Regions from separate parts of the Homo sapiens genome. Here region 1 is linked to region 2. Evidence: fine-mapped expression QTL. A gene starts in region 2. The other region holds a variant in brackets. All regions are shown on one strand. Distances are between the middles of the regions.

What was found. PIP is the estimated chance that this variant, and not a neighbour inherited with it, causes the effect. A credible set is the group of variants that fine-mapping cannot tell apart.
Region 1: its variant is the best candidate, but not a certain one, in a credible set for the expression of PRR36 in nasal epithelium (TOPMed, PIP 0.52).

Annotation. Positions count from the first base shown.
Region 1 is chr19:7,896,419-7,899,288 of GRCh38, forward strand. It overlaps LRRC8E (leucine rich repeat containing 8 VRAC subunit E), which reads left to right. Exons shown (of 3, transcript NM_025061.6): 3 at 2,243-2,870. Among named protein-coding and RNA genes, the nearest start is that of MAP2K7, 6.0 kb to the right of the region's middle. The variant A/G (reference allele first, on the strand shown) is at 1,210.
Region 2 is chr19:7,872,573-7,875,472 of GRCh38, forward strand. It overlaps PRR36 (proline rich 36), which reads right to left and starts at 1,818. Exons shown (of 6, transcript NM_001190467.2): 1 at 1,714-1,818; 2 at 847-1,124; 3 at 625-727; 4 at 277-389; 5 at 1-184. The coding sequence starts at 1,117. RefSeq lists an enhancer at 1,020-1,536.

The sequences.
Region 1 (2,870 bases), 24 kb after region 2:
CAAATATTAGCCAGGCATGGTGGTGGACACCTGTAATCCCAGCTACTTGGAAGGCTGAGGCAGGAAAATTGCTTGAACCTGGGAGGTGGAGGTTGCAGTGAGCCGAGATCATGCCACTGCACTCCAGCCTGGGTGACAGAACGAGACTCCATCTTAAAAAAAATAAAATAAAATAATTGAAAATTAAAATAAAGAAACACGGTCTCATTCTGTCATCCAGGTTGGAGTGCAGTGGCATGATCACAGCTCACTGCAGCCTTGAACTCCTGGACTCAAGTGATCTTCCCGCCTCAGCCTCCAGAGTAGCTGGGATTACAGGCACACACCACCACGTCCAGCTAATTTTTAAATTTCTTGTTGACACAGGGGTCTTGCTATGTTGCCCAGGCTTGTCTCGGACTCCGGGCCTCAAGCCATCCTCCCACCTCGGCCTCCCAAAGTGCTGGGATTACAGGTGTGAGCCACTGTGTCCAGCCCCATATTTTCACAATGCTCAGTTTTATCCCTAGAATCTGGAAAGGACTGCAGTTGCTATATGAGTTTGTTACTTCTGTTGTAACAAAGTAGCAGGGATTGAGTGGCTTAAATAACCAGAAATGTTTCCTCTTCTGGGTCTGGTTCTGGAGGCCAGAAGTCTGAGATCAAGGCGTCAGTTGTCAGTGAGGGAGAATCTTCCAAGCTTCCCTCCTAGATTTTTGCAGCTCCAAGAGTTCCTTGGCTTGTAGATGACATTCTCCCAGTATTTTTCTTTTTCTTTTTCTTTTTTTTTTAGACAGAGTCTCCCTCTGTCGCCCAGGCTGGCATGCAGTGGTGCGATCTCGGCTCACTGCAACCTCCGCCTCCCGGGTTCCAACAATTCTCCTGGCTTAGCCTCCCAAGTAGCTGGGATTACAGGCGTGTGCCACCACGCCCGGCTAATATTTTTTTGTATTTTTAGTAGAGACGTGGTTTCAGTATGTTGGCCAGGCTGGTCTTGAACTCCTGACCTCGTGATCAGGATCAGCCTGCCTCTGTCTCCCAAAGTGCTGGGATTACAGGCATGAGCCACTGCGCCTGGTCGAGACAGTTTTTTTTTTTTTTTTTTAAGCAAGCTCTGTCACCTAGGCTGGAGTGCAGTGGCGCAATAATAGCTCACTGTAACCTTGTACTCCTGGCCTCAAGCAATCCTCCTCTACCACCCCCGCTTGGCCCCCCCTCCCACTGCCTCCC[A/G]AATCACTGGGATTACAAGCCTGAGCCACCGCACCCAGCCTCTCCCTGTATCCTCACGTCATCTTCTGTCTTTGTGTCTGTCTCTGTGTCTATGTTTCCCCTTTCTCTAAGGCGCAGTCATACTGGGCCCACCCTACTGGCTTTGTCTTGACTACCTCTGCAAAGACCCTATTACCAAACAGGAGCCGCCTGACCCAGCTCAAATAATACCACATTCTAAGGATTCGGAGTTGGGACTTCAACATCTTTTGTGGGGACACGATTCAACCCAGCTCCTTTTCTCAGACAAAGACCAGTGCTTTGTCAGTTGTGGTGGCTCATTCCTGTAATCCCAGCACTTTGGGAAGCTGAGGCAGGGGATCACTTGAGGCCAGGAGTTCGAGAGCAGCCTGGCCAACATGGTGAAACCCCATCTCTACTAAAAATACAAAAATTAGCTAGGCGTGGTAGTGCGTGCTTGTAGCCCCGGCTACTCAGCAGGCTGAGGCAGGAGAATTGCTTGAACCAGGAGGGGAAGGTTGCAATGAGCCAAGATTGCACCACTGCACACAGCCTGACAGAGCGAGACTCTTGTCTCAAAAAAAAAAACCAAAAAAAAAAAAAACAGTGCTTAGAGGTTTAGCAAAACTCTTCCAAAATCACAGCTGGCTGGCAACAGTCAGAGATGGGGGGTGCGGGGGGTCTCCCACCTTCAGCCTGCTTTTTCCCCATCCCCCTCATTTTCTCTCTTTTTTAAATTAATTTATTTTTGAGACAGAGGCTCACTCTGTCACCCAGGCTGGAGTACAATGGCGCGATCTCGGCTCACTGCAACCTCCATCTTCCGGGTTCAAGCGATTCTCCTGCCTCAGCCTCCCGAGTAGCTGGGATTACAGGTGCCCACCACCATGCCCGGCTAATTTTGTATTTTTAGTAGAGACAGGGTTTCACCACGTTGGCCAGGCTGGTCTCGAACTCCTGACCTAAAGTGATCCACTCGCCTTGGCCTCCCAAAGTGCTAGGATTACAGCCCTCATTCTCTTTTGCTCCTCAGGTGACACAGGACAAGATCATCTGTCTACCCAATCATGAGCTCCAGGAGAACTTATCAGAGGCCCCGTGCCAGCAATTGCTGCCTCGGGGGATCCCTGAGCAGATTGGGGCCCTGCAGGAGGTTAAAGGCCTTAAGAACAATTTGGACCTGCAGCAATACAGCTTTATTAACCAGCTGTGTTATGAGACGGCCCTGCACTGGTATGCCAAGTACTTCCCTTACCTCGTGGTCATTCACACACTCATCTTCATGGTCTGCACCAGTTTCTGGTTCAAGTTCCCTGGCACCAGCTCCAAGATTGAACACTTCATCTCCATCCTGGGCAAGTGTTTCGACTCTCCATGGACCACCAGGGCCCTATCCGAGGTCTCCGGGGAGAACCAGAAGGGCCCAGCAGCCACCGAACGGGCTGCGGCCACCATAGTGGCCATGGCAGGGACCGGGCCGGGGAAGGCAGGGGAGGGTGAGAAGGAGAAAGTGCTGGCGGAACCGGAGAAGGTGGTGACCGAGCCTCCAGTTGTCACCCTGTTGGACAAGAAGGAGGGTGAGCAAGCCAAAGCCCTGTTTGAGAAGGTGAAGAAGTTCCGCATGCACGTGGAAGAGGGCGACATCCTGTACACCATGTACA
Region 2 (2,900 bases):
GCAGCCGGGCTTGGCTCGGTGGTACTGTGCTCCGAGGCGCTGCTCACTGATTTCCGGGGGCCCTCTGTCGGGGGCCGTGGCCGGGCACTCGGAGCTGGCCGGGGGAGCCCCACCTCGGTGCCCGCAGCCCGGGACCGACGGGCCATGGCCGGGGACGGGGTTCCTGGGGTAGGCCCGGAAGTGTCTGGAGAAAAAGTAGAAGGCCAAGGGTCACCGATACCTCTGAGGCGGCTCCCCTTGCTGCCCAGGAACCCCACTCTTCTCCAGGTCACGTACCTCTCCGTGCCCCAGCGCTGAGGGCACTCCTTTTGGGAGCCTCTGTAGCTTTTCCTCTGGCCACAGTTTCCTCCGCTGAGATCCGGAGTCCCTTCTGGCCAAGAGGGCCTGGCCTGGAGACAGAAGGGGCCACGCTCAGGCCTAGGTCTTTGTTTGGCTTCCCAAGTCTCTATTTTCCCATCTGTGAAATGGGCATGTGCCCTCTCTGAGGACCAATAATGGCTTTCACCCAATTTGTGCCCAGTGACCTGCAAGTGCTCCCGCGCCCCAACTCGTGTAAAATAAAAGGTTCCAGACTCTGTGACGCTAACCCTGGCTTAGGAGACTGGGGGAGAGGGAGCAGGTTACCTGGTGGTCCCGCTGGCACGCCCTGGGCTAGAAACAGGGCCTGGGCTGGTGTTCTTGGCAGGAGGAGCTCTCTCCCCTCTCCCAGAGGCTGGGGGCCTGGAGGCTGCGGGGAGAAGGCCGAGTCACAGGTGCCCCGGAGAGGTGGCAGTGGAGGTGAGACTGGACAGGTATTGGAAGGGGGAGGGAAGATGGGGGCGGAGCTGAGGAAGGAGGCTGGGGTACCAGGGTTTCGGGAACTTGTCCCAGCACTCCGCGTTGGTCCCGCTCGGGGAGCAGACTCGGGAATAGTGGCCCCGCCGATGCCCCCCGCTCGCTCTGCCAGAGGCTTTCGCCCCACTGCTCCCGCAGCTCCCAGAACTCGGAGGGCTGCGGGAGTTACTGGGGGAGGGGGTCGAGGAGAGCCTGGGGGCCTGGGGGTCAGAAGTCCAGGAGCGCGAGCAGCCGGCGTCCGCGCGGCGGCCCCTGCCTTCGCCTTGTCTCTCTTGTTGTCCATCTTGCACCTGAAGAGACAAACCGGTCCGCATCCCAGGTTCTGGACAGCTACGCCGCCTCCAGAGACCTGGACCCTGCTACCTCACTGCCCTTTCGCAGCATCGCCACCCATGGACACTCAAACCTCGGCCTCGGCTTCCATCCGCTCGGCTCCCACGCACCTACACCCACTCGCCAGCCCCACTGCTCCTCGCTGTCCCCAAGTCCCACCCCCCACCGCTTTTCCCTAAAGCGAAGAGGCCCTGCCCGCCCCAGCCCACCGCCTCCCCCGCCTCGGCTCCAATTCAGGACCGATCTCCACGCCCCTGCCCCTTGCCCCTTCAGGGACTCAGACCGCCAGCCTCGAGAGCGGGGGACTGCCACGGGCTCAGGATGTCGCATCCCTCCAGACCCGGAGCGCACGCCCGGGTCTCCCCGCCAGCCCCCATCGGCCTCCCCTGGCCTCCCCGAGGGATGCCTGCACCTGCCGGGAGGCAGAGCGGCCCCGCTGCCCGCGAACGGGCTCCGGGAGACAAAGAGCCGCGTCCCGGGCCCGACCCCTCCCCCAGCCGGGCCTGGCCCGCGCCCAGCCTCTCCACCTGCTCGCGTCGCGCTCACCTCCGCCTCCGGCCTCCGGCCGCTCCTCACAGAGTCGCCTGGGGTGGGGCCCGGGCCGGAGCGACGCGGTGGCCGCCAGCGGCGAGGAGGCGAGGGGAGGGGGCTGCGGGCTGCGGCGCCGGGGGAGCCGAGCCGGTCCCGCCCCTCGGCCGCGGGCGGGAGAGCCGGGGGCGCGCGCTCGATCCGGACCCGGGAGCGCGGCCGGCGGAAGCGCGCCGAGGGGGATGGGGGAGAAGCGCGCTTTGGAGAGAAGGGTGGCTTCTCTGCGGTCCGGGGGAAGCCTGTTTCCCCAGCTGCGCCTGAGGAACCCAGATAGTCAACGGTTGGGACTGGGGGAGCAAATCCCTGGGGTCCTCCACTGTCCTTCCCAACACATACACCTGCCCCGACCCCCACCACAACCACCTGGCACCAAGGACCGCCTGGACGCGGATAGGCTGGGCCCTGGCAACCAGGAGGCGGGACCACCGCGCCTCTGGCCCACACACCAATCCGGCCGCTCGGTGGCCCTGGCACTATCCAGTCCTTCGCGTCTGCGAAAGCTAGGCCGCCCAGGGTCTCTGGGGGGCAGCCGCCCTCCGCCCCACACCCGAAGGTGTTCCCCAGACGCCAGGAAACCCCTTATCTGGTTGGGGGGTCGAGGGACTGCTAAGAGAATGCTGCCCTGGGAATTTCAGGATGCAAGGTAGACCCCAGATTTTGGGGAAGATAAAGAAAGGAATAGGAGGGAGAGCGACAGGAGACACAGTATATTCTGTGAGAGGTGACCCAGCCGTCTGCAGGGTAGAGCACGCCCACCCTCCACACCCTCCCAGCTAACGGGATGTCAAGTCAGCCCAGACTTCCTGGCAGAGCTGGGCTTCCGGGGGACAAGGTTCTGTCGACCTAGCAGGTGTCAAAACAAGTGCATAAGGCCGGGCGCGGTGGCTCACACCTGTAATCCCACTGCTTTGGGAGGCTGAGGCGGGCGGATCACTTGAGCTCAGGAGTTCGAGACCAGTCTGGCCAACATGGCGAAACCCTGTCTCTACCAAAAAATACAAAAATTAGCCGGGCATGCTGGCGAGCACCTGTAATCCCAGCTACTCGAGAGGCTGAGGCAGGAGAATCGCTTGAACCCGGGAGGCGGAGGTTACAGTGAGCCGAGATTGCGCCACTGCACTTCAGCCTGGGCGACAGAGTGAGAC